Linked DNA regions of Homo sapiens. The protein of the gene in region 1 interacts with the protein of each later gene in a pairwise test. Each region holds a gene or a part of one and is shown on either strand. Other genes may lie near its edges.

Region 1 (7,031 bases):
GGTAGGGTATGTTGTTGAGGTCTTAATTTATATTTTTCTCTTAATCTGTATTTCTTCTAATGACTAATGATGTTGCATATCTTTTCATGCCTTTATTTGTCATCCATATATGGCTTCTTTGATGAAATGTCTCTTCAAACCTTTTGCCCATTTTTTTGGGTTACTATTGAGGTATGAGAGTTCAAAAAATAGACACTCTGGATATAAATTTTTTTTTTTTTTTTTTTTTTTTTTTTTTTGTGGACAGAGTCTTGCCCTGTCACCCAGGCTGGAGTGCAATGGCGTGATCTCGGCTCACTGCAACCTCTGCCTCCCGGGTTCAAGTGATTCTCCTGCTTCAGCCTCCCAAGTAGCTGGGACTACAGGCGCCTGCCACCATGCCAGGCTAATTTTTGTATTTTTAGTAGAGTCGGGGTTTCACCATATTGGCCAGGCTGGTCTCGAACTACTGACCTTGTGATCCACCCACCTCGGCCTCCCAAAGTGCTGAGATTACAGGCGTGAGCCATCTTGCCCAGCCTGGATATAAATTATTTACCAGGGCCTGGCATGATGGCTCACACTTGTAATTCCGGCACTTAGAGAGTCTGAGGCAGGTGGATTGCTTGAGTCAAGGAGTTCGAGACCAGCCTGGGCAACATGGGGAAACTCCATCCTCTATAACAAATACAATAATTAATCAGGCATGGTGGTGCACACCTGTAGTCCCAGCACTAAGGAAGTTGAGGTGGGAGGATCACTTGAGCCTGGGAAGTCGAGGTAGCAGTGAGTCGTGAGCATGCCACTACACTCCAGCTCTTTTGAGACACAGCAAGACCCTATCTCAAAAAAAAAAAAAAAAAAAAAAACAACCACACACACACATTCTTATCAGATACGTGATTTGCAAATAGCTGCTTCAGTTTTTGGCTTGTCTTTCCATTCTCTTTCTGGGGCTGCAGTGACCTATCATAATGCCATCATACTCCTGGGCTCAAGTGATTCTCTGCCTCATCCTCTCAAGTAGCTGGGACTACAGGTGCATGCCACCATGCCCGCCTCAAATTTTTGATGCTGTTGTAGATGGTATTTTAAATTTCAATTTCAGATTGTTTATTGCTGGTGTACTACAAATGCCATTGACATTTGTGTATTGATTTTACGACCTGTAGTCTTGGTCATTTATTTGATCTGATAGTTTTTTGTAGATTTTGTGCCAGAGTTTTCAATAAATAAAACAAATAAAACCAGTTTTACTTCCTTCTTTGCTAATTTGAATGCCTTTTTTTTTTCCTTGCCTTATTGCACAGGCTAGAATCCCCAGTACAATATTGAACATAAGTTGTCAGAGCAGAAATCCTTGCCTTGTTCCTGATCTTAAGTTGAAAGCACTGTTCTTCACCATTAAGTGTGATGCTTTTTATAGACACTCTCTATCAAGTTGAGGAAGTTTCCTTGTAATCTTAGGAATGGATACTGGATTTTGTCCAATGCATTTGCTGCATGTATTGAGATTATCAAATGGTTTTTCTTTTTTAGTTTGTTAATATGGTAAATTACATTGCTTGATTTACCAATGCTAATTCAACCTTGCATTCCTAGGATAAGCCCCTGTTTGGTTATAATGTATTATCTTTTTTATATATTTTTATGTATTTATATATTTATATATCTTTTTTATATAATCTACTTTTTACTGCCTTGTCTCATGTAAACCTGTGTAATTTCCCATTGGGTCCACCTTAGGAAACAGTCTTTAAAGTTTTCTCCGTAAAGCAAGTACCAGTATACTCTTTTATGGTCAATACAATGCTAATTCAACCTTGCATTCCTAGGATAAGCACCTGTTTGGATATAATGTATTATCTTTTTTATATACTGTGAAATAAAAGTGACTAGAATTGTGCATATTATGTTTATGAGAGATATTGGTCCATAGTTTGCTTGTTTAATATCTAGAGTTTGGGTATTAGTGTAATGCTGGCCCCACAGAATGAGCTGGGAAGTATTCCCTCCTCTTCAATTTTTGGAGGACTTTATCTAGAATTGGAATTATGTTTTCCTTATATATACCATGTTAACACCCTACAAAAGAAAGCCTAAGTAGCTGTAATACTATCAGACAAAATATACTTCAGAGCAAAGAACATTATCAGCAAAGAGGAGGGTCATTTGTAAAGTGGATAATTTCATAATAATGAAACTTTCATAAAGGATAAATTCATACAAATAAGAGAATAACTATGTTTATGCAACTAATAGCTGAGCTGCAAAGTACATGAAGCAGAAATTGATAGAACTACAATTGAAAAAAACCAGTAATAGTCAGAAATTTCAATACTCTCAATAATTAGTAGAATAAGTAGACAGTAAATCAGAAAGGATATAGATTTGAACACTAATATCAACCAACTTGACATGATTGACATTTATAGAACACTCCATGCAACAACTGCAAAAAACACATTCATTTCAAATGCACAGTGAGTATTTACCAAGACAGACTATATACTCTGGGCCACAGAACAAGTGTCAATAAGTTTAAAATTATTAATAGTGTACGAAGTACCTTCTCTGATCACAATGGGATTAAATCAGAAATCAGTAACAGGCAGCTACCTGGAAAACTCCTCCACATTTGCAGACCAACACTTACAAAAAACCCATGGTCAAAAAAAGAAAGCAATAGGGAAATTACAAAGTATTTTGAAATGAAGGAAAATGAAAATACAATATATCAAAATATGTGGAATGTAGCTAAAACAGTATAGAGGGACACTTATCACACCAAATGCCTGTACAAACAAGAGACATCTAAAATTAATGGTCATCAGTTTCTGAGTTAAGAAACTAGAGAAACAAAACAAGAAATTTAAAAATTAAAAAATAGCAGAGTAAAGGAAACAATAAACATAAGAGCAGAAATCAATAAAATAGAAAACAGAAAACCAGTAGAGAAAATCCAAGAAAGCAAAAACGGGCTTTGAGATTTGAGATCCGTAAACCGAGAAGCCCCTCACCAGATCGATCAGAAAAAAAGATGACACACAAATTACCAATTTCAGAACCTGAGGGGTCAGATTTTATAGACATTAAGTGGACAATAAAGGAATACAGCTAACAGATTTGCATTATTAAACAATTTAGACATTTCTACAAATTATTAAAGCTCACTCAAGAGGCGATATCAATAAATATTTGTTGAATTAGTGAATACCAGCTATTACTATGGGCAAGGCGCTAAGTCCAGGCTTTAGAGAGAAAGAAAGCATTTTTTTTTTTTTTTTTTTTTGAGACAAAGTCTTGCTCTGTCGCCCAGGCTGGAGTGCTGTGGCACGATCTCGGCTCACTGCAACCTCCGCCTCCCGGGTTCAAGCGATTCGCCAGCCTCAGCCTCTTGAGTAGCGGGGTTACAGGCGCACGCCACCAAGCTCGGCTAATTTTTGTATTTTTAGTAAAGATGGGGTTTCACCATGTTGGCCAGGCTGGTCTCGAACTCCTGACCTCGTGATCCGCCCGCCTCAGCCTCCCAAAGTGCTAGGATTACAGGGGTGAGCCACCGCGTCCGGCCAAAGAAAGCATTTTCCTTCCAAAGAAGCTCTCAGGTTACTGGAGGGGCAAAAGAACAGATAAAGTTTAATGTTGCTCCGGGGGAGAAGATTAGGGGAACACTGGTTAAAGAAAGGCTTCTCTGGGGACAAGTCACTCGGCCAACACACGAAGGACCCACAGAAAACGTCTGTTACAGCTAGAACGGCTGCACGTGAGTTCAGGCAAGGGGCCCAGAAGTGGCCCTCCGGCGACTGCCTGCTCCACCCCTCTTAGTGCAGTCCTAACCCTTTCCCAACTTGTGCTGGCAGCAGTTAAGAAACTCCTTTCAAATCCGGCTGTCTTGCGCCTGCGCATTCAAGCAAAGCGCTCATAGGCGGGGTGGGGGGGGTGGGGGGGGTTGGGGGGTGGGGGGGGTTGGGGGGTGGGAGGGAGGCGGCCACCGGAAGTGTGACCTTTCGCTCCCCGCTGCCTATTCTCATCCGGGGTCACGTCGGTCTTCCGGGTGTCTTTGACAGGGTTTTCTACGCCGCTTTTTCGGCGACTTTTTGCTCTTCCGCTTTTTGCCACCGCCCCCAACCTTCTATATCCTTGCAGCCCCTACCTTTTCTTGTGTTGCTCCTCCCCTGGCAGCCGTGAGGGGGGTTAGATCTCAGCCGGAGCCGGAGCTGGGCCTAGCTGTCCCACGGGCCACCACTACCTCCTTTGGTTCGGGAGAAAGCTACGACCAAGTACGCCCAGCTCGGGCCTTAGAACTTCTGAACGGGCAGTGCGGGTAGGCCCTGCTTAGCCCTTCCCGGAGGACACCTGTGAGTTTAGGGGGTTTCGGAGAGGAACGCAGCAGTGTAGGCCCAGGTCGGCGGCGGGGCACGGGAAACTTTTCCGAAACGGTAGCGTTTTGTTTTGCGTGGGAGGTTCCAGCAGTATCTCTTGGTTATTCCAAATTTATGGGCGGCATCTGGGCTGCTGTACATTTTGAAGAATCTTAGGACCGCTTACTTTGCTTACTCGTTTTCTATTCCTCGCGTACTGCCTCGTCCACCACTCCAGGACCAAAAGAGGAAGATAGTCTTGGGACCCTTGCATGGTGTTTCAAAGGGTGGTGAAGAACTAAGGTACGTAGCTGGATTAATTAAAAAATTTAAAAGGCATTTATCTTTTAAGCCTTAATTAAATGGCATGAAATTGCTTCAGCTTTTCACTTTATAGGAAAATGCACAGGTTAAGACTGTTGTGTGCGTTTCTTTTCTTGTTCAGCCTTTGTAGAAAAGCTCTTCGTCTCTCAAGGTGAGAACACGAAAGGCTTATATGTCTCAAAACTTATGGATTCTCTAAATTACTTGTCTTATCTCTTTCAACTCTTTGTTTAAAGTAGCAGATATTTTTCATTAGGGTGAACAGAGAAGAAACAAAGGGAAACTGTAAAACACAAGCTAAATAACACATGTGCAGTGTATGATTTTGTGAAGAAAGAGATTGTAACTGATTACTAAATCTGTGTTTTTATATTACAGGTAACATAGTAACTTTTGTAAATATCTTCATATTGTATGGTTCAGTACCACCAGGCTTCTAACACGTACTGATTAACAGCCATAAGGCTATTAATTTATACTGATTAATAGCCAGTAATAGTGACGTTACTTTGTTGGTGTGAATAGCCCTAATTATGTCTGTTCTGGAAATGTCCTGTAACAGGTTCCATGTGAAATAGGCCGTTTATGAGTTGTTTAAGAAATGCCCATTTGGAGCCATGTGACTAGATTATTTTTTTGAACACTTGGGTGTAATTTAATTCTTAACCAAAAGGAATATCCTGTTCAAAACCTGGAAGTAGTTTTCACAGTGGGTTGGCAGGATTTAGGAACTGGATTTTTCGTATTGTGGAGAAAAGTGGGTTTGAGATATCAAAGGTATTTGGACAAAATGGACAGTATCTTGGTTTAGCCAGTAAATTTCTGGTTTTCATTCTAGGTATATTCTGCTTTCTAAAGAATCCTGATGAAGGAATTATATATAACCTTGAGTGTTCTCTAATTTGTTGGAGGAGAGGTCAAGTTGAGGACAGAAATTCCAGGTTGCAAATTCCAGGACCAAATACTTTATAACTAGAAATTACTAGGAATTAATCTTTTTTTTTTTTTTTTTTTTTTTTTTTGCAAGACGGAATCTTGATCTTGTCACCCAGGCTACAGTGCAATGGCACTATCTTGGCTCACTGCAGCCTCTGCCTCCTGGGTTCAAGCGATCTCCTGCCTCAGCCTGCCGAGTAGCTGGGATTACAGGCACGTGCCACTATGCTTGGCTAATTTTTGTATTTTTAGTAGAGGCAGGGTTTCACCATGTTGGCCAGGCTGGTCTCCAACTCCTGACCTCAGGTGATCCATCCGCCTCGGCCTCCCAAAGTGCTGGGATTACAGGCGTGAGCCACTGTGCCCGGCCGAATTAATCTACTCTTTTACTACCTTGTCTCATGTAAACCTGTGTAATTTCCCATTGGGTCCACCTTAGGAAACCGTCTTTAAGGTTTTCTCCGTAAAGAAAGTACCAGTATACTCTTTCATGGTCAAGTACAGATTGTGGAACTGATAACTTTTAAGGTAAGGAAAATTGGATATTGCCAATATCTGGATTTTATGTATCTATCATAAAATTTGTCACATAGGAGATGGTAGAAGACCATAGTTAATGTGGAGTAACGTTTTATATAGCTAATCTCTACTTAAGAAACCTTTCATTCAGAGTATGAAGAAAATGATTTAAAATTTTGTGGAGGTCCCCTTATTTCTGTTACAGTAATAGTTTTACTGTATTTTGTGAAACTCTACAGTCTCTTTAAAAAAATGATTATGTTGTTTATGATAATTGTTTTGATGTCATTTTTATTTTCATCAAAATCAATGTGAAATGTATTAGAAAAAGGCATAGAAATTCATAGGCGTTTCATTTACTTCCTCAACTCTAGATGTCTTTCAGAATACCTATATTGGTGAGCATAGAACGAATGCGTCGGAATGATTTTCCTCTACTTGAAGCCTACCTTCTTTAAAAAGAGCCTGACTTGAGGGCCAAAATTCATACTGAGGAGAGGCTGACAGATCCTTTGTTTTGCAGGGGCTCCAGAGCTTGATATATTTCTGGGAATTTGGAATATGCTAAACTAGATTTCTGCCCTAGACTAAACATCTGGCTGTGGACTCAATCTAAGTTTTTAAGCTGGGGATAATTTGGTCATTAACTTGGTAGAGTAGTTCTGAGCCACAAGTCATCTTTAGACTTAGTTTGGATTTGGCTGTGTAAGAGATGAAAACAAGGTGAGGCCTGGGCTCTTGATGTCATTTTGCATCTTCAAATCTTAATATACATGGACCTTATTCAGTTATAGAGGAAAAACAGCATATTTTTTATAGGTATAAACAAAAGTATCTAGGCTTTTTGCTATGAACCGATTTAAATAAACCTGAAAGTACAAGATTTTAATTCTAGTTTTTCTGAATACATAT
Region 2 (7,025 bases), on another chromosome or scaffold:
CACATGAGAATCCTCTTCACTTGCCCTGGTGCCACACCCTATTCTAGTTGTAGGCCACACCAGAGGAAATTCCAGTCCTTCAAAAAAATTCTTTCCACCCATTCACTGCCTGGTATCTTTTTTCTTCTGCTGTTGCCAGAGGCAGTCCTCATCTACTTTCTCCAGGGACAGGTCAGCAGTAGGGGTCAGGAGATGCCCATATTTGTCCTTCTGGGTGGTTCTACCAGATGACTTCCAAATCTCCCTTCTAGGGTACACCCTGAAGCTGTTTTTTTTTTTCTTTTTTTTTTCTTTTGAGATGGAGCCTGGCTCTGTCACCCAGCCTGGAGTGTAGTCGCACGATCTCTCCTCACTGTAGCCTCCGCCTCCCAGGTTCAAGTGATTCTCCAGCCTCACCCTCCCGAGTAGCTGGGATTACAGGTGCCTACCACCATGCCGGGCTAATCTTTGTATTTTTAGTAGAGACAGGGTTTCATCATGTTGGCCAGGCTGGTCTGGAACTGTTGAGCTCAAGTGATCCGCCTGTCTCGGCTTCCCAAACTGCTGGGATTACAGGCGTGAGCCACTATGCCTGGCCCACCCTGAAGCTTTTAATCCAGCTGAGCTCAACTGGACAGGTCGGTAGCACCCAAGTGGCCTGAGTTTTACCCCAGGTGTGGTGTAGAAATTTCTTATTCTAGGGAGTGACTGTGTTATGGAGCCCTTTGTCCATGTCCTTTGTCTCCCTGCCACACCCAGGCTATACACTCACAGCTCAGAGGAAATCAGAGTCCTAAGGCCACTCGTACATCCTGCCTCTTTGCTGCCTTCTTGCTAGGAGTTGTAGGTTACGTTCCCATGTGGTCCTATGGACAGAGCTAGGGTCCAAGTATCCCTGACAGCACAGAGGTGGGGGGCATGGCTATATGTTGATAAGAGGCTGCCCTGAAGCGACCTGCTGGGCTTTGCTAAGATTTGCAGAAGTTGGTGATTTAAGCCTCCAACTCTGAATGCACGGAACTGGAACTGCATTCGAAATGTCCAGTCTGAGGGAGAGAGAAAATTGAGGAAGGAGAGTGTGTTGGAAAAGAAGAAAAAAAGACTTTCTAATATAGAAAGACCCAGTGTGTGTAAACCATCCCAAGATGAAATTGAATGCCTATCGTGTGCCAGGCACTGTGCTCAGACCTATGAGGAAACAGGAGGGAGTTAAGTTGGAAACCCTGTGGGCGGATAATACGGAAGACAGACTTTACACATGTAACTCTAATGTTGCACAGACACACAAAAAGCTGCAGAAGCACAGGGCAAGGAGGGGTGTGTGAGAAAGGCGGCATTTATGATTTCCTGTATCCTAAAGACTCATTCAGATGTCAGCTAATTAAGATTGAGGTTCCTGGTGGAGGGAACTTAGAAAGTGCTGAGCGTGTTTGGAGAAGAGTTAACAGTCCAGTTAACTCTTCTGTGCAGGATGCGTGTATGCATGTGTGTGTGTATAGAAGATATTTAAGGAAAGGTAGGTAAGTCCACAGTGTGGAAGGTCTTGAATGCTGACATTAGACTTTTTTCTGTAGGCGGCCAGGCCCTGTTGAAAATACAATATGTGGGCCATAAAACACTGAAATTGAGTTGCAGACTTGAAGGCCTGGATTTCCCAACCCTGAAAGTGCTTCATGCCAAGTGACATCATTCTTCCTGCCGGTCTCTTTCCACCCACTCCAACCCCAGATCAGGATACCAGCAGAGAGAGGCTGTGAGAGCATGAAGCTGCAACAAGTCAGTAGGGAGCAAACAAATATTGATTCAGATCAGGCCACAGAAGAGACAAGCTGGAGCAAGTGCTGTGTGTCCCTCCTGCTCAGTTTGATCGAGGTCACTGGGCCGAATTCCAGGAATTCTGGGGAATGAGTTGGCCCTGTGACTCAGTCATTAATCAAGACCATAAAACCAAGGAGAAGAATATCTGCTTTCAAAAAGGTTCTGATAAATAAAGATGCAGTAGGTGGGTGGAGGATGGAGTACAGTGGGAACCCCTCTCCTCACCCAGTACATTTTTTTTTTTTTTTTTTTTTAGTTTAAAATTCCAGTGTGGCCTGTAGACTGTGTGTCCAGGACTGTGTACAGTAAGAGCTTTGATGGAGAACCCAACTCTCCACACTCCCACCTCTACCCATTTTTGCTTTAAAATCTTCATTTGAATCACCAGTCCCTGATTGATTCACCATGGTTGCTAAGAATCTGTTTTGCGGTAACGCATCAACACTCCACGTTTAAACTGTGAAGTGGGTGTGTCCACAAAACTTCTGGATTAGACTCAGATTTGCCTGTGCAGACCAGCCCTGTTGCAGTATGTTTTTGTTTGTTCAGATTAACATTTGGGCTTTTTGGAACTGGTTCTTAATTTAGTTCAGTAGAATGTGTTTTTACTATTTGAAGTGTTGACTTTTAAGTTTTCTTTTGTTTGTTTGTTTTAACCTTTTTGTAAACTTTTACTCTTCTTTTTGGGAGTAAAGTTAAAACTGCTTCACTTGTCCTTTTTTTGTTTGTAACTGCACTTTCGTAGTGAAGCAATAGAATACAATAAAATCTATAGAGTTTTTTTTTTTTTAATAAGGACAAACCCTTAAATTATTAGGTTGGTACAAAAGTTAATTGTGGTTTTTGCCATTAAAAGTAATGGCAGTTATTTTTGCACCAACCTAAATAATATAGTCCTTATGTTAAATGTAAATGACTTGTTTCTCAATAACTGCACTGATTTCATTAATGATCAGCCTTGCACTGTGAGCTTTTTTAGCCAGGCATTCACAGTCTCATTTATCAGCCTTTTCAAGGCAGAAGAAACTGTTCTTTTCATTAGGGTGGGGCCAAGTGACCTGTTTTCCTACCCAAGTAGTGAATGATTTTAAACCAGTTTGAGGTGGGTATGGCTCTTATCAGTGAGTCTCCCTGTACCTCTAGTTTATTTCCTTAAACAGAAAAACGTTCTCTGATAAAGGGTCATTTTAATGATGTTGTCTAGTGACCCTGCCCTCCCTGGGAATGGAAGGCACGGCACTGATGTGTATGTAGATGTACTCATCAACAGATTGAATTTGCTGATTTTTTTTTTTTTTTCTTGTTGGAGAGTTGAAACCAGTCGGCAAGCTGGGTGAGGTTGAAGTGTTGGAAAGAGTGGTGCAAACTGCCATTTTCATGTTCTTTAGAGAAGTCTGCCAGAAAAGGAGTAGTGGTTCTGTTTTTAATGGATTTATGAGTTTTATACGGTGATGAGGAGTGAGTAGAGGTGAAATTGTCTCATACAGCATGTAGGCTTTATTTTTTATTTTCATTCAAAACAGTAAGTACACTGAAGTCAGAGTAGTTGTTTTCAGTAAGAAAATTCTGCCTCCAGAGCAAATGTTTTGGTGAATAGATAAATATGAGTACTGAGTCCCAATCATTTTGGCTCATAGGTTCCCCAGTATTTCCATAGGCAAGCTTAACTTTGCACCATTCAGAGACTTATATTTTAGGTTCCCCACAGGGCACCCCACTGGACGTGGCTCATTTTCCAGCCTGTAGTCTTGTTCTTCTGCCACCCTGGGGCATTATTCCTCTTCCCCTCTCCCCAGGCCTTCCCCCTTGCTTCTTGGCTGGAACCTCCCATGGTGATTCACCCTTCTCAGCCTAGGCAGACAGCACCTCCCTGTTAAGCCCTTAACTAATCCCGCTCTGATGGCTGTGATCTTTCTCTCTGTGTCTTAATCACTTGGAATAAAGAACCATTGTGGTGAGGTTGAAAGGGCATTGGCCCAGGAGTCTGGGGATCTGGGTTTTGGCCCTGCCTCAGCTACTTAATTCACTGGGTGACCCTGGACTAGACTCTCAGTGTGTCACAGAGGCACGAAGGGAAGAGAGCTCAAAGGTCCTGCAGGGTGGAAGTCTGCATTTCACAGTTTTATAAGTGTCTTTTGTATCCTTTAATATAGTGCAGGCTCAGCGTATGCTTGGTATGGGTTCGTTGATTAATTCCTTGCGTATTACCAGTGTTTGTAACCTACAGTAGCACTGCCAAGACTTCCTTTTCCTGCTTTCAAGGATAGCAGCACACTGACACATTCTCATTAGTCAAATATGCTATATTAAACTAATGTTTTAACAAACAGTGAATCGCAAAGCCAACTGTTCCTTCCAGCGAATAATAGATCATATGCAAAATGACTTTGCATTGCTAGGGGATTTGATGGAGTGAAGAAGCAAGCACTGTATTTTATTTCTTTTTATTTTGTTTTGTTTTTTGGACATAACCTCAAGATTTTATTGTCCTCATAATAAAACAAAAGATGATGCTTAGAACTGGATCACTTGGCCCTTTCTTTTGTTATCTCCTCCCAGTTGAAAATGTTTGCATGTCTTAACAGCCAGCATTTTCTTAGATCTGCAGATGGGGTCAGCACACTCAAGCCTCAGCACAACCTCCTTTGTAATTTTACCCGTTTTCCAGAAAATTGCCTTAGTCTACCCACCATAGTCACTCTGCTTCTTGTCATAACGCCGCTTTCCCTGGGCATACAGGGAGTCCTGGTATTGTGCCGTTTTGTGGGGTTGGTGCTTGCCACACTTCTTACAGAAAGCCCAGTGGGTTTTAGGAATGTTCACCATGTTTTCCGGAATGCTATCGGCATGGGAGGAAAGTGGCCATATTTTATTTCTAGGGTGAAAATGTTTGCCATTAAACTCACATGAAGTAGGAAATATTTATATGGATACAAAAGGCACCTGCATGGGATAATGTCAAATTTCATAGATACTGCTTTGTGGTAAGTGTGACTTTGTGGTTATTGTGATGTTTGTGTTTTGTTTTTTTTTTCTGCAAAATGGTTATACATAGTATAAATGTTATGCAAAATAGCAACTCATTGTTTTCAAGTTGATTTAGCACCTGCATTATGTAAAGATAATCTGAAATCTGTAGGGGGACTGGGACTATGTAGGGAAGATGAGGTCAACCATATACTTTCTACTGCTTTGAATTGTACCTATGCATTCACCATTTGAATACTTGGCACGTGTAGGGCACTTAAAACATTCTGCCGAATGGATGAATGAAGTGGTATCAAAAAGTGCCCTGGCAGTGAAAGGCAAGATAGAGTTCTGTAGAGTAGGGGTCGTGGTGACCCTGTTGGAGCAGATACTGAAGTAGTGGTGAGTGCGGAGAGGCAAGTCACATTTTGGCCCTAGTCAACTGTAGCTGAGGAGTAAACAGAGGGAACTGTTTACTGTTTACAGGATTCTGATGCTCATCTTTGAAGGCTGGGCTCTGCTGGAGGACTGATTTTGAATGATGTCAAATGATTTTGACAAGATTAAATGGGGAGATTTAGTTGGTGGTGGCATGCAGGACTGATTTGATGAAAGAGCAGCACAGTTATGAATGGTGAAACCGAAAGGAAGATTTGTGGGGCTTTTAACAGTCTCCTCAAGGTGTTGTGGCTGTGGGAGAAGAATTAACATGAATGGAGAGTGTAAAGAAGCCTATCAGATTGTCTTTGATCTGCACAGTACTGGGGAGTCCCATGTGGGACACGGGTAGGCAGCAGTCTACAAAGCTCAGAGCTGGAAAGACAACTTGAAAGAACAACACAATGAAAAGTTACCGTGCCTCTAGTTGAGATTTTCTAAACATCGGAACCAATGTGAGGTGTCTGATTTCATAAACAAGTGGAATTTAATCTATACTCTCTAAGTGGAAACAACTCTGTTTGCAACTCTGACTTGCTAGTTCCCTGGTTTTGCTTTTGTTTTACGTTTGGCATTTTTTATTTCTTGCCTGTTTATGGTAGAGACTAGAATTCTGCACAGCAGATGACAACAGTTTATCCCCTGCTGCAGACCTGGTCCAGTTCTGACTGAGTCCAGGGGTGATAGTTAAGGCCAGGGCTTGGGTGGTTTGATGTCCATCCTAGGAGTTTCACCTCTGCTTCGGTAATTCTCGGGCTGAGGGATACTGATGAGACCCTCTAGAATGTTTCTTGGTCCATGTTGAAGTTAGAGATTTCTTGCTCTGTCAAGAAGACTGTCAGCCTGGGCAAGGTAACGCGACATTATCTCTACTGGAAAAAAAAAAGCCAGGTGTAGTGGCACACGCCTGTAGTCCCAGCTACTTGGGAGGCTGAGGCAGGAGGATCTCTTGAGTCCTGGAGATCAAGGCTGCAGTGAGCTATGATTGCACCACTGCACTCCAGCCTGGGTAACAGAGAGAGAAACCCTGTCTCAGACAAAAAAAAAAAAAAAAAAGGTCTAGGTGTGGTGGCTAACCCCTGTAATCTCAGTGCTTTGGTAGGCTAAGGCGGAGGGATTGCTTGAGCCCAGGAATTCAAGACCAGCCTGGGCAACACAGTGGGACCTTGTCTCTACTGAAACATTAAAAAAAAAAGGAAAAAAAATGGAAAAAGGAAAAAGGAAATTAAATGGAAATAAGATATATTCAACATATCATAGTTGTAATTGTAATATATGATCAATATATAAATTATTGGGCTGGACACAGTGGTTTATGCCCGTAATCTCAGTGCTTGGATCACTTGAGGCTAGGAGTTCGAGACCAGCCTGGGCAACATAGCAAGACCCTGCCTTTACCAAGAAAGAAATTATAAATGAGAAATTTTATATAATTTTTTCATACTATGTCTTCAAAATTCAGAATGTCCTTTACACTTATAGCACATCTCAGTTTGAACTGACCACATTTCAGATGCTTTGTAGCCACATGAGGCTGGTGGCTACTGTATTGGACGGTTCTGCTACAGAGCAAGACTATTCTAAATTGTCTTTTTTTTTTTTTGAGACGGAGTTTTGCTCTTGTTGCCCAGGCTGGAGTGCAGTGGTGTGATCTTGGCTCACTGCTACCTCTGCCTTCTGGTTTCAAGCTATTCTCCTGTCTCAGCCTCCCGAGTAGTTGGGATTACAGGCGCCCGCCCCCACGCCCAGCTAATTTTTGTATTTTTAGTAGAGATGGGGTTTCACCATGTTGGCCAGGCTGGTCTCTATCTCCTGACCTCGTG
Region 3 (6,808 bases), on another chromosome or scaffold:
CGGGCCGCGCCGATCCTCACCAGCTCAGGAGCTTCTTGTCCGTAGGAGAGGCTTTACTGGATGTGGGGTTCGGTGTTTATGGAGATGCAGCCCTTCTCCCTCCAGCTTCGTGCACGTGTGCACAGACAGCGAGTGAGGCCGTCAGGGTGGGCTCCTGCCACGTCTTGGCCCCTCCCCAGAGTCGCTGGACTTAGGAGCTAGTCTGCATGTGACAGACCTTCCCAGTCAGTGGCAGGCGTTTCCCGGGACAGTGTCTGTGTGGCGGTCGGCGTGTGTGCAGCTGCCTGTACATGCTGGACCCCAGACTCCCTTGTCCCTGTGATGTTCATGCCAGGGTAATGCAAGTTGAATCAAATCGTGGTGCCACAACGCCCCCTGGAGTAGTTTGTGCCCGAAGCGGCTGTCTGACTCTTCCGCGCAGCCTCAGAAGCGCCGGGGTCGGTTCCTCACTCAATGTGCGCGGGGATGCGGCTCCCAGGAGACTGTGCTGCTGTTTCTGCTCTTCTGCATCCTCCATGGCTCCTGGGGCTGAGCCGGGTCCCCGGACGGTGGGACTGGGGAAGGCTTTGCCCGACGGAGCTCGGGGCTCTGTGCCTGGCGCTGAGCTCTCCCGTCCCGCACACTGGCCTCCCTGTCTGGGCCCCTCTCGCATTTCCTCCTGGCAGCTTAGACCTCTTCCTTCCCTTCCTCGCCCTCTGGCCTCCTCTCCAGCCTGTGCTCCTCAGGACGCTGCTTATGTACTTCTCTCTTCTAGGAGCGACCCCGAAGCCAGAGCCAGAGCCAGAGCAGGTCATAAAAAACTACACGGAAGAGCTGAAAGTGCCCCCAGATGAGGTTTGTGTCTTGGGACCTTGGCTGCCTTTGTTTCTGTTTGGAAACAACTCCACATGGAAAGGACATCCGCCCCATCTTGCTTGAAGGGTGCTTCCCAGGTGCCTCTGGGTGCCAGGGCCTTGCTCCAGCCCCTTTGGTTTCATCTCCCAGCCTCCCGAGACCCACATCGTTATGGTCTGAGCTTTGCACTTAAGGAGCTGTGGTCCTGAGCAAAGCCCCTCCTCTCCCGGCCCTGGCCTCTCCATAGCCTGATGGCCATCCTGGGAGCAGGAATTCCAGAGACAAGGGATGGGCCAGCCTGCCCCACTCTCCACCTTGCGGATGCTGGTGTAGAAGTGAGGTGGCCTCGTCCAGGTGGCTGTCCTGCCCCCCGGCTATTGGGAGAGCTGGTCAAGGTTCTTATAATTTTTTTATTCTTAAAGACGGGTGCACACTGTCGCCCAGGCTCAGTGCAGTGGCGTGATCACAGCTCACTGCAGCCCTGTCCTCCTGACCTCCTGTAATGAACAGGACCAATCAGACTCCTGTTGCGCTTCCATAGAACCTGAACCTCTACTGAGCCACGTTTTGGGGGCTGCAGCACCACTTTCCCCTGATTTTAGCTGGGAGCCCTGGAGATACTGTTGGGGGAGGGGGTGGGTGAACGGCCGGGAGTACCAGTACCCAGAGATCTTCAGATACTTGGGGGCGGGTGGAAGGCCAGGAGCCCCAGTACCCAGGGACTCTTCACTTGTCTCTTTCTCCAGTCTGTTGAGTCCATGAGAAAAATCTGGTAAGTAAAGGTTTGGAAAGGAGCCTGAACGTCCTCCTCATGTGTCCCACCCCTTCCACAAGCCCTTGCCACATTCCCGCCTGCCCAGCGCTCAGCTCTGTCTCGGCCCTGGTGTCCATCTGGTGTGACTGGGCCGTTTCACCCCAGGCTCCTCCTCTCCAAGCTGCCGTCTGCACAGCCAGCACGCAGCTTGGATCATGGGAGCACTCCCTGCCTGGAACCGCCAGCAGGACCCCCAACTCACACACAGCCCCAAGCCCCTGAGTGTGGCAGCCAGACCCCCGAGGGCGCGCCTCTCCCTGATCCTGTCTCATCTCCTGCTCCCAGCCCACCCCCTGCCAGCTTTAGTGCCCATGAGCTGGCTCCTCGTTCAGAACGTCCTCCTCCCTCTTCCGGGTGCCCACTCTGTGCTTGTCCATCTGGCAATTCCTGTCTCCCTTGTAAGACCCCACGCCGAGGGCCTCCCCCAGGATCCTGCCCTGTCCGTCCTCCCCATTTGGTGGCTTCTGCTGTCATGTCGGGCCTGTGCTGCTGGTAAGCCCTTCAGAGGCACAGGTCCCGGTGACTCACCTGTGTCTCCAGCCTGTGGAATGGACTTTTTTTTTTTTTTTTCTGAGACGGAGTCTCGCTCTGTCACCCAGGCTGGAGTGCAGTGGCACAATCTCAGCTCTGCAACCTCTGCCCCCTGAGTTCAAGCGATTCTCTTGCCTCAGCCTCCCGAGTAGCTGGGATTATAGGCACCTGCCAACACGCCCAGCTAATTTTTGTATTCTTAGTAGAGATGGGGTTTTCCCGTGTTGGCCAGGCTGGCCTCAAATTCCTGACCTCAAGTGATCGGCCTCCTAGAGTGCTGGGATTACAGGCCTGAGCCACTGCGCCTGGCCTCGGAATTGACTTTGACTGCACTTCCAGCATTTCAGCACATGAAAGCCTCTTTTTCCAAGACTGGCCCACGTCAGCCCAGCCCACTGTTGGCGAGCATGACCCATGTTTGGTCTCCTCCAGGACTGCATCATCTGCATGGAGAAGCTGTCCACAGCGTCTGGATACAGCGATGTGACTGACAGCAAGGCAATCGGGTCCCTAGCTGTGGGCCACCTCACCAAGTGCAGCCATGCCTTCCACCTGCTGTGCCTCCTGGCCATGTACTGCAACGGCAATAAGGTGCCCCCACTGGCCCAGGGCGGAGGCGGGTGGCCCGCCCCCACAGTCCTGAGCTGTCCCCTGCAGGGGCGGGAGGGTTCCGGGGGTGGCTGTAGGAATGGGCCTCTGCAAAAGATGGTGCTGGGCGTGGGGCCAGCTTGAAGACCTTTCTAAAGGCCTGGCCGGCTCTCCTAGGCCTGCCCTACTCTTCTAGGTCTGCCCCACACTTTAGAAAGGAGGACCAGTGCGGCTGGTTCCCTCCACCCCTCCAGCCAGGCCTGAGAAGATTCTGGGCTTCTCTGAGCCCCAGGGCACCGCCTCCCCCTCGGCCACTTGTAAGCACCGCAGACACTGTCTCCCTTCTTCCTTACAGCATCCCTGTGCAGTCAGCACAGTGCTCATGAGGGAGAGGCTCAGAGCAGGGGCTGTGCCCAGGGTCACCCCACTGGGAGGTGGGAGCCAGGCCTTGAGGCAGGGCTGATCCTGGGCCCCACAGCAGCCTACACATGAAGAGCCGCGCCCAGACTGACCCCCAGCTGCTCTCCCTGCATCGGCCTTCAGGCGGGATGGGCAGAGTTTAGAGGCTTAGAGAACCGAGTCATGTGGCGCATCGGAGCCTGGCTCGGCCTTCCCTAGTGTCTGCCATCCTGGGCAGCCAGGGCCCAGCTCCGCAGATCAGACGCTGCAAGGCTGTCTATCCGACTGCAAATGCGATTCACCCGTGGAGATTTCTGCTCAGGATCCGAGTTTTCCCACTCGCCACCTGTCTCCTGATAGCATGTCCCTTAACGAAAATGGCATGAGTTGCTGGTGCAAAACAAAGCTTTCCAGGGAAGCTGTTGGAAGCCAGTTTCCGGGCAGGAGGCTGCCAGCAACTCCCTGGGATGGTGGCCAGCCCATTCCCGGGGCCCTTTACCATCTGACGGTGGAGGTGACGGTCTTGGGTGTTCTCAGACTGCCAGCTCAGTGGGTTGCGTCTGCCTCTGTCAGGATGGAAGTCTGCAGTGTCCCTCCTGCAAAACCATCTATGGAGAGAAGACGGGGACCCAGCCCCAGGGAAAGATGGAGGTATTACGGTTCCAGATGTCGCTCCCCGGCCACGAGGACTGCGGGACCATCCTCATAGTTTACAGCATTCCCCATGGTATCCAGGTGAGGGGCCTTCTTGAGTCCCCCACTCCTGGCCACTCCTCTTCCCACCCCGCCCACATCCCAGCAGTCTGCCCCTGGATCAAGGCTGAGGATGCCCATGTGGCCAAGCTCAGGCCCCCAGGTCCCCTAAGGCCAGAGCCATGGAGGGCCGGGAATGGGGAGGCAGTGCCGGGGCTTAGGGTAAGCTCTTAGGGCTGTGGCAGCAAAAGGCTGGCCCTCCACTCTTTCCTGAACCAAGGAAGCCTTCCTAGAGGAGGAGCCATCTTAGCTGGACTTGTTCTGGGCAGAAGGGCAGGCAGTTCAGTGGGAGGAACCCTGCGGAGGGGCTGGAGAAGCGGGGCCACAGCAGGGTGTGCGTCGAGGAACCTTGGGTTGGGAGTGGCAGGGCCAGGCGTGTGGGTGTCAGGAGCCCAGGCACAAGGCCCCAGAGTCCCAGAGGAGACTCAGACGGGCCCTAGCCCTTTCGGTCTCCTGTCTTGAGCCAAGGTGGATCGTAGGGCCTGGGGCAGGGTGGGAAGATAACGGGGCAGCAGGCAGCGGGCACTGGCTGCCAGCCAAGGTCCACCTGTGGTGGATGGAGGCATCTTTTTGTCTTGTTGAACCATGAGCCTTTCCCCTGGTTTCCCTCCACTTCTCCACAGCTCAGAGGGAAATTCAGGAACATTCGGGGTTGGCATCTCGGAGCGGGGGAGGAGCTGGAGCTGTGCAGGGGCCTGTCCCTGTGCGGGCTCTCGGAGCACCCTATCCTGGTGTCTGTTCCTCCCGCAGGGCCCTGAGCACCCCAATCCCGGAAAGCCGTTCACTGCCAGAGGGTTTCCCCGCCAGTGCTACCTTCCAGACAACGCCCAGGGCCGCAAGGTGAGTGCCACCATGCGCCCGGGGGGTGGACGGGGCCCTGACCAGGCGGCAGGAGGCCAGGCGCCACACTGGACTCTGCTTCTGCAGCGGAGGACAGAGGCTGAGGCCGGGCCGAGTGTCTGCTGCTCTTTTCTGGGGACCTGCTGTAGGTACAGGGAGGGCAGCCTGGACCTCACATAGCCTCGAGGGAGGAGGAGAGGCCATCACCTTCCAGCACCCTGCCGGGTGGGGTCAGGAGCTCCTGAGAGTCAGAGTGTGACAGGCAGGGACCGGGGGCTGTGTTAGACCAGGTGACCACGGAAGGCTGGAGCAGTGGTGTCTGCACTGAGACATGAATAGGGACTTTGTGGCTGCAGAGAAGGTTGGGGACGAGCCTTCCAGGAAGGCAGGATAGTGGGAGCCCGTGGTGTGGGTGTGAAGACAGGGTGCCCCCCAGGCCAGCACCAGGGGTAGAGCTGGTTCTGAGCGCCCAGCGAAGCCACGGAGGTGGAGCTGCTGATGGAGCTTTGGAAAAGCTCTGGCCGTGTGAGAATGGGCTTGAGGTGGCGGAGCTGGAGGCGGGGAGAGGGCAGGGAGAGGGCAGGGAGGCCTGGATTCCACCAGGGAGGGTGGGTGGGCGGGCGCTCGTCCAGCAACGGCTGTGGAAGCAGGGAGGACTCGAGCATGGTGCCTGGGCATCAGGACCAAACGGATGGCAGTGCCAGGCACTGAGGCGGGGTGGGCTGGAGCCCAGGTTCATGTGGGATCCTAATGTACTATCCAGTGGGCAGTTTTGGGGTCCCTGCAGATGGGGTGAGTGCCAGGGAGTGGATGAGTCACCTGGGAGGGGCTGGGATGGGAAGAACATGGTGCCAACCCGTGCCTGCTCACTGAGCCCCTCTCACTCTCCGTCCCCTCCTTCCTCTTCCCCCTCCTCCTCCCCGGGCAGGTCCTAGAGCTCCTGAAGGTGGCCTGGAAGAGGCGGCTCATCTTCACAGTGGGCACGTCCAGCACCACGGGTGAGACGGACACCGTGGTATGGAACGAGATCCACCACAAGACAGAGATGGACCGCAACATTACGGGCCACGGCTATCCCGACCCCAACTACCTGCAGAACGTGCTGGCTGAGCTGGCTGCCCAGGGGGTGACCGAGGACTGCCTGGAGCAGCAGTGACCTCGCACCCCAGCACGCCCGCCTCTGGTGGCCACCCCGCTGCCCCATGGCTGGCTGGGTGGCCAGGCAGGAAGTGCCCAGCCCGAGAGGCTGGGAGGTTTGTTGAGGGTGTGGGGTGTGCCCCACCTGAAGCCGGGGCTCCCCCTGCCTGCCTCTCTCTCCTCCTCCCCTCTGGGAATTGGGCAGCCCTGGGCAGTTGTACTCATGGGGGCTTAGGATGCAGCTACCTCAGTGCGCAGGGCCCGTCTGTCCTCTGGGGGCTGCTTCGGGCCCGCGGTGCTCGGGGCCTGGTGTGGGGCGAGTAGAGACTTCCCCAGCCTGGACGGGCGTGGGTTCTGGGTCAGCTTCTTTTACCTCAATTTTGTTTGCAATAAATGCTCTATAGCCAAAGCCAGCAGGTCCTGAGTGTGTGCATGCATGCGTGTGTGCGCACTTGTGTGTGTGTGTGCCCCCCCCCACTTCCTGCATCAGAGCAAGAGGGGGTTCCATGGGCTCATCGGCTCCCATTTGATAACTGAAGAACAGGCCACAGCCAGGCATGGAGGAGCCCACGGTACTGGGCTGTGCGGCCTCCACATGCCCTACACTGATCTCCCTGCCATGCCAGAGGCTGTCACCCCAGAGCACCAGCTGTCACCTTTGTGGCCCTGGGGTTGTGGTTCACAAAATGCCATTCACTTAGGATTGGAGCTGCTGTCTCTGTTTTACTGATGTGGAAACAGGTTCAAAGGTGCAATGACTTGAACCAGGCATGGTGACGCATGCCTGTTATCCCAGCTGCTCAGAAGGTCGAGACAGGAGGCTCACTGTAGTCCAGACATTTGAGACCAGCCTGAGCAAAATTGCAAGACCTCATCTCTAAAAAAAAAATTAGGCCAGGTGCAGTGGCTCAC
Region 4 (7,025 bases), on another chromosome or scaffold:
GAGGGATGGATTAGGCCCAGACAAAAAAGCCCTGGCCTCTTGATCTGCCCTCTTTCTGCTTACTGGGGCCTGGCTCACTCTGGGTGGTCAAGAGCCTCTTTTGTCAAGAGGAATCTCACCCCCTCCCTAAACTCCAATTCATCCCAGTGGGCCTTGGGCAGCAATCTTTGTCTTCTTTTTTCAGCCTTCCATCCTGTAAAGTTTGAGCAGGATGGGCAGTGACTCAGGAAGGTGAAACCCATCAGGGCCTTGCCTGCTCCTTCAGTGGGGAGTCCTTGTGAAGGGCTTGTGCTGTGGAAAACCAGTCTCTCTAGCTTTTGTAATTTTCTCAAGCAACGAAAAAGCAAACAAACGCAAAAAGCTTATTCTGCTTTAATACCCATTTCCGTCAAAGGAGTGTATGTGTGTGTTAGGAGAGTGCTCAGGCTCATACTGGAAAGTTAGGTGTTGGTGAGGACTGCTTCAGGTGCGATCCTGACCTGGTCAGACCACGTATCTTTTGATGTTTATGGTAATTCCACATTCCTTCATGATGGGAGAAGGGAGACGGAGATGATAAGATGTATCAAGGGATTTATCAAGTGTAAGTTCACCTTTATCTCTTTTAGGCTTCTGCCTCACTAATACGTTACTACTACTCAGCAATTTTGAGTTTAGGGGATTTCAGACCAAATCCTCTTTTCTGCTGGGCTGGGTTTTGTGCAAATATCAATGGTGAATTGTCTCTAAGCATCAGTAAAGAACTAATGGGAAGTAATGCTTCAGGATAAAAACAGAGAAAAGTCTGGGAAACATAAATTCCAGCAGTCAGGCTGACACTGAAATCTGATTCCAGCTTATCTCTGTTGCTTATCTCTTTAGGATCAGATATCTTAAAGGACATACTCATTTCATTTTTAAAAGTTTCTAAAGGAAGGACCTACTGATCAGGTAACCACCTCTACCCACCCCACCCCAGTTAGCCAGGAAGATAAGGAAGGACCACTGACAGGCTGCAGGCCAAACACGTTCCCCCTGAGGGCTCTGCCATTTGGAATCAGTTGTATGTATCAGTTTTATGGTCTTCTGCTATCACAGTGGGAACAGACAAGCATGGGCCACAGTGTACTGAGGATTTAAAAGACTCAGAATGTCTTAAAATAGCCTGGTCGCTAAACAACAATAATAGTTTGGCATTCCTGAGAATGGTTGTTTGTTTAAAATTCAAGGCATTGGTTCTGGTAGCAGTTAGTTTCCACTAGCTGGGCTCCCACGTGAGTTACTCTGGAAATCACATGGTCTCATCACAACAGGAAGCACAGGGATCTATTAAGCCCCTCCCAGCCCCTCTGAGGGTGGTCCCTAAGCCTTGGGCTACAGGCACCTACACACCCTAGAACACAGTAGATGCTGTGGACCTGATCATTTTAAGGACTCTGGTGTTGTTGCTTTCACCCTGACTAATAATGATCAGTCCACTCTTAGGGGCTTATTTCTCCCACCTAGATGCACAGGCAGTCTGTCTTTCTATCACCAAGTCCTGAGGAGGTAGTTTTTACTGCCTTGTTGAGAGGAGAAGGGAGTCAGGAAGGCCAACCAGCAACAGTATGTTAAACCACATTGTTGGGGTCCCATCATATCTGAAAATGGGTACAAACTGCCCTCTGAACGTATCATCAGCAGTCAGCTCCTGACTCCCTACCATCCTGAGAGAAGCTCGTGCCATGCAAGCTGGCTGTGGGGAAGCCTCACACAGGTTCTGCTACTTTCTGGTTTCGCCATAGAGCAGTCCCACATCACACCGAGCAAAGCAGTTTTCTGTTGCTAGCCCCCTTTCTGTATTGAAGAGTTTCGGGGGATGGGAAGGATGCAGAGACACTGGGCCTGGAATGGCTCCTTAGATGGTAGGAAGGAATAAAGTGACTCTGTTGACCTTGCACTGTAGACTCAGGGAAAGTACTGAATGGCAGAGTTACTAATGACTTCTATCAAATCACCTTTTGCTGACTCCCGTGTTAGTCCTGGATAGCGTCCTTGGCACACTTGATTTCAGATTTTGACAGGTGATAAAAGCACATATTGAGATTGCTGCTTCACAGGGCCCAGATTCCTTGCTATTGACTGATGTTATTTTTGCCTTTCCTGAGAAGCTCCCTCATGTGTTTGCTGTTACTTTTAATGGATTGCTTCCTGATACATGGGAGGCCCAGGCACTTGCCCTTCAATCTGGCCAACTGCAGCCTGACCTGGGTGGAATTGGAGCTGCCTGAGGAACACTTAGACCAGGCACTTGGCAATATGACTCACTTTTTTCCCCTAAAAGTTAGTCTGTAAAGAGCAACTGGAAATGTTCCTGTTTACATCTTTGTGGAGTGTAATTTTAATCAGGATTCTCAAGGTTTTTCACTTCAATTCTCTGAATTTTTAAGATCTTAAATGCCCTGTGGTCACAGTATTTGGCCCTGTACTTCTGAGGGCTACGTGGAAAATGCTTGATGATCATTACTGACTTGTCAATAGTAATTATGCCAATAAACAGAAAAGTCTTCCAGTTCTGGTCTGTTGAGGCCCTGCCGTTAAGCCATGGTTTTCCCAAAGGCTCTGCAGTGGGTTCTCATGGGATGTCTTTCATTGGTTCTTTCTCTCCCTTTTCCTCAGAGGGTCGCATTTCCTGTTTTGTGCAGGAAATTCCCACTGTTTTGGGTTCCCCAGCTACAGTCGGAAAGACATCAGAGTGTTCAAGGCGGAGTCCAGGCCTGAGATCTCAGCAGGCCAGACAGGCAGCAGATGCTTGTTGCTTTTCTTGTGTTATATTTTTCGTTCCCTTACTTAGCATTTGTGGGACCAAAGCCAACAAACAACAGGTTGTTAAAAGAATGAGAGTAATTTGACTTCCGACAGTGATTGGGGCTCGGGGTTGTTGGGTGTTTTGTTTTCTGATTTGAAACTAGCTGTATGGTAACCACTAACTCTCGCCTTATTCTTTTCTTGCAGATGAGCTCACAGTGCCTGCACTTTACCCCAGTAGCCCTGAAGTGTGGGCCCCGTACCCTCTGTACCCAGCGGAGTTAGCGCCTGCTCTACCTCCTCCTGCTTTCACCTATCCCGCTTCACTGCATGCCCAGGTAATTGATACCCATCGGCCAGGACTTCACTCACTTCACCACCAGTCCTTTCAAACTTGGTTCCCGAGAGCACACCATACAACTAACACCTATCCAGCTAACAGATCCACCCTCAAGAGATTAATGATCCCCTCTAAATCAAGCTGACACTCCTTCAGGACTGACGAGGATCGTCTGACAGCAATGATATCACCCACTGCCTGATGTTTGCCCCAAATGACACCTCTCTCTTCCTTAATGATCTCACCTCATATCGCACATGAGAGACCGGGGCAGGTTTATCCACCTGGCTCCCAGCTAGCTAGAGGGCATCACCAGAGTGTATACGTGTGTGCCTTGTGTGGAAGGGCTGCAGAGGAAGGTGTGTGCTAGGAGAAGGGGATATGTGCGTCTGTGCGTGTTTCTGTGTGTTGAGAGTTTTCCACTCTCGTGTACGGTGAGAAGAATCTCTGACCAAAGGGAAAGCTTCCAGGGGGGAAGGCTGTACTTTCTTAAATATGTTACAGGAAAGATTAAGGGTTCCTTCTCTCCATTTTCAGGAAACCCTGTAGAAAAGGAGATACAAGATAGTGTCTAAGATGGAATTACAGGTCAAGGTAGAGATCTCTATTCTGACCAGCTTTCTTTCTTAGTTAAAAATAGCCTGATTTTTATAAACAAACTTCCTGTTTCTCCGCAAAGATTACTGTCTACATACTAACACTTCCTCTCCCCTTGGAGAAAATATTTCTCTTAGCTTCGCTTTTAGTGCAAGTGGTAGTAATCAGTGTAAAGATTCACCTCTGGAGATCACCACTCATTCTTTGGCCTGCAAAGATTGATGACCAGTAACAAATAGAAAGTACGTACGTAGGTTTCATTTGTCTTTCTGCATGTGTAATTCAGCCTTTAAATTTTAAATTTTTAAAAATTATTAGGCTGGACAGGCAGAGTTTTCGTTTGCCTGTTTTGCTCAGTGTTTGTTTACAAGGCTGGGTGAAATAAACAGCTTCCCAGAAAACCTCCTTCTGACTTAAAACTCTTTTATGTTGTACAGAATTCCCTGTCTTGATAAAGACCACCTAGAAGCAGCCCCCAGCGAGGGTTCTTGAAAGTCATGGGGTCGAGATTGTTGTTGGCTGAACATCTTTTAATTCTGAGTTACCAACACGTTGTGCGTGCATTGATGACCCGGCTTCCTGGCCTGCCCTTGGTGCCTGAGCCCCAGTAATGATTGCCCTCTATGTTGGGAGAAGAAGGGAGAAAGTAGTACAAGTAGTGAAGAAAAAAATGTAGGTGGTGTTGGTGGTTGAGAGTACATGGCACAGAAAATAAAGGAGCCAGGATTACCTGTGCCTTTGGCTTCTCCTTCCCCTGCTGCTTTTTCTTCCTTTTTCCATGTCAGTGCTTGGGAACCCTCACAACTGGCAGGTAACGGGGTCGGGATAAAATGTAAACCTGTGGGTGTCTTCTGCTGAGTCATTAGGATCTTTGTAGCAGGCTGCGGATAAATATGTGGATGACATGGGGCAACTAAGAGCCCCTTTTGCTTGCCACCTCCCACCCCTGCTCTGGATGGTGTCTCCTCTTGCTAGACTGCCGGGTACAGATCACGTGGCAATTAAGGCAAATGTTAATAAATACCATGAAACAGTGGTTTGCATAGTCTTCTGAATAGCCATGGCTTTGGTTAGTCAGCAACAAAGCCTTTCACCCTTACCCTGGATAATCAAGAGTTGACAACAGCCAGAAAGTACTGGGAATAGTGGCTTTTGGCCATGACATCTGCTCATTCTTCATTCATGTAATGGGTCAAATCAGAAGTAATTCTGGAGATACGGTATGGTAAGAGAAGGGCCTAAAGAGTCTCAAGAGATTAGAAAGCATATGCCATTGTAAGGAAGGATGGGGAGAGACAGTGCCAAGATTAAATGGACTCAGCCATTTGACTTAATGGGATGCACTGCCCATGGTGGCACCCTCCCCTGGGAGTTCTTCCTTGATCTTGAGACTTTCCCAAACTGGAATCCACTTAGCTCTGCCACATCGGTCCCAGATTTGGTGGGACTCTCCTCTGGTATCAGTTTTCAACGCCACTTCTTGTTTGGAGTCATTCCCAGTGCAGTCATGGACTCTATGAACAAATACGGTTATTTAAATGTATTTGTCCAGTATGAGAATCAGAATGAACTAGTAGAGGCTTTACAGATCAGCTGGTCTGACCCATTTTACAGATGAGGAAACAGGCCTGAGAAGATGGAGGGAGTTACCCACAATCTGAAGGGGCTCTACCATGACTAGACCCAGGTCACCTGCCTCCCAGGCCTGGCTCTTTCCACTCCGAGGTGCTGGCTCACCACAGACTTATTCTTTAATGGAATTTTGGAAAGGCCTCACTCCAGTGACTCTTTGGATCTTTCTTCTCTAAGTAGATGGGAAGCCTGTAAGAAGAGACTTGGAGGCAAAGCAAAGGGAATCAGCACTTAACCCTCACCCAAAGGGCCCAAGAGAATCTTTAGTAACTGGAGGCAGAGCAGACTGGAGCCTCTACGGGGCATCTCCCCATATTGGAGAATTCAGTCTTTGTTTTGGAAATCTTATAATGTCTTTGGAGAGGCTTTAAATAATTTTGTTTTTCTTAGCAATGTTATGCTCTATTTTGAGACATGGATTTTTTTTTTCTTCTAGTGTTTCTCTCCTGAGGCAAAGCCCAACACACCTGTCTTTTGTCCACTTCTCCAGCAAATTAGATTTGTCTCTGGGAATGTGTTTGTAACATACCAACCTACTGCAGACCAGCAGAGGGAGCTCCCATGTTGAATTTGTTTGTTAGCTATTTTCCCCCCTTTCACAAAAACTATTTCTTGACGACCTTTGAGAGATTTCAATAAAAATTTTAATCAGAGCAAAAATGAACTCAAGTAGACTGCAGCGTTTTGTTTTCATGGTGATGCAATTTTGGAGCAAAGGTGTTACTCTCTGACTGAGGTTTTGGGAGAATTGGGCCTGTGACACCAAGTCTATTTTACATAGAAGGACTCAGAACGAGCTTCCTGGAGAGGCCAGGTCCTGGAGCCGAGGCCACACTGCTGCTGCTTGTCTCTCCCTGGGCTCCCAGAAGAGCCACCAAGAGCTGCATGTTGGAAGCGTCTCATCCACCAGGAGACCTCACTTCAGCAGGGATGCTGCGTCTAGCTAGGGGAGCCCCTGTGAAACGTGTGGGTGCAGTGTGCAGTCTGCCCACCGGGATCCACAGGAAGGAAGACCAGGAGACAAAGTGTCATTGAAAAGAAGTTGAGTCACATTTCTAGCTCTGCCCCGGCTTCAGCTGTGGTCTGGTACCCCTTCAGATTTCCCAGCTCTAAAGTAAGGATACTTATTTGCCATCAGATCCCGTTTTTTAGAAATTATTGGATAAGGTAATAGGACTGAAAGCCTCAGTACTGACTTAATGTTTAGAGATCAAAGAGCGACCCTGTGCAGCAGACATCGGATTGCTAAGAAGATCATTAACATTTTTAAAAGTGATCATCCAGTTTACTTTCAAGGTCATTGGTATTTGAAATGTGTTAATTAGGAGAGGAAACTTTCATCTGTTGCTTTCAAAAAGCTTATACACTGAAGAGAGCACACAGCTGTTCTGTCACCTCACATTCACACACTTCCGCCTCTTAGGTTTGAGCTCATGTTCTGCTTTCAGTCTTGTTGTGATGGGCAGAGAGAAAGTCGTTAAAGTATACTGTCCTTACCACATTCTCGAAACACACCATACACCCTGTACTTCAGGCAGAGTCACAGTGTGGGGCCAGAAGCTTCTGTAGGTAAGTAGGACTGAGAGAGAAAGTCCTGGTTACCTAATTCCTTTTCAGAGGCCTCATTTGTCCAGAGTAACAGCAGTTCTATCGGATTTCTAATAGGGCTGCTGTACAGCTTACCTGGACA

What was found.
Region 2: the proteins of TENT2 (region 1) and ANXA2 interact in a two-hybrid assay, tested with the Homo sapiens proteins (one study listed by BioGRID).
Region 3: the proteins of TENT2 (region 1) and DTX2 interact in binary tests that used the Homo sapiens proteins (3 or more experiments, as listed by UniProt).
Region 4: the proteins of TENT2 (region 1) and RBPMS interact in binary tests that used the Homo sapiens proteins (3 or more experiments, as listed by UniProt).

Annotation. Positions count from the first base shown.
Region 1 is NC_000005.10:79,608,433-79,615,463, forward strand, and holds the start of TENT2 (poly(A) RNA polymerase GLD2), read left to right. Parts: upstream 1-4,008; 5' UTR 4,009-4,643; intron 4,644-4,785; exon of another isoform or gene 4,786-4,815; intron 4,816-5,502; exon of another isoform or gene 5,503-6,128; intron 6,129-7,031. UniProt on the Homo sapiens protein: Cytoplasmic poly(A) RNA polymerase that adds successive AMP monomers to the 3'-end of specific RNAs, forming a poly(A) tail. In contrast to the canonical nuclear poly(A) RNA polymerase, it only adds poly(A) to selected cytoplasmic mRNAs.
Region 2 is NC_000015.10:60,387,969-60,394,993, reverse strand, and holds part of ANXA2 (annexin A2), read left to right. Parts: exon of another isoform or gene 1-617; intron 618-1,553; exon of another isoform or gene 1,554-4,781; intron 4,782-7,025. UniProt on the Homo sapiens protein: Calcium-regulated membrane-binding protein whose affinity for calcium is greatly enhanced by anionic phospholipids. It binds two calcium ions with high affinity. May be involved in heat-stress response.
Region 3 is NC_000007.14:76,499,687-76,506,494, forward strand, and holds the end of DTX2 (probable E3 ubiquitin-protein ligase DTX2), read left to right. Parts: intron 1-754; coding exon 755-834; intron 835-2,518; coding exon of another isoform or gene 2,519-2,533; exon of another isoform or gene 2,534-2,548; intron 2,549-2,611; coding exon 2,612-2,770; intron 2,771-3,739; coding exon 3,740-3,901; intron 3,902-4,669; coding exon 4,670-4,759; intron 4,760-5,687; coding exon 5,688-5,915; 3' UTR 5,916-6,305; downstream 6,306-6,808. UniProt on the Homo sapiens protein: Regulator of Notch signaling, a signaling pathway involved in cell-cell communications that regulates a broad spectrum of cell-fate determinations.
Region 4 is NC_000008.11:30,541,521-30,548,545, forward strand, and holds part of RBPMS (RNA-binding protein with multiple splicing), read left to right. Parts: intron 1-2,973; coding exon 2,974-3,104; coding exon of another isoform or gene 3,105-3,251; exon of another isoform or gene 3,252-3,643; coding exon of another isoform or gene 3,644-3,655; exon of another isoform or gene 3,656-4,108; intron 4,109-4,140; exon of another isoform or gene 4,141-5,771; coding exon of another isoform or gene 5,772-5,903; exon of another isoform or gene 5,904-5,999; intron 6,000-7,025.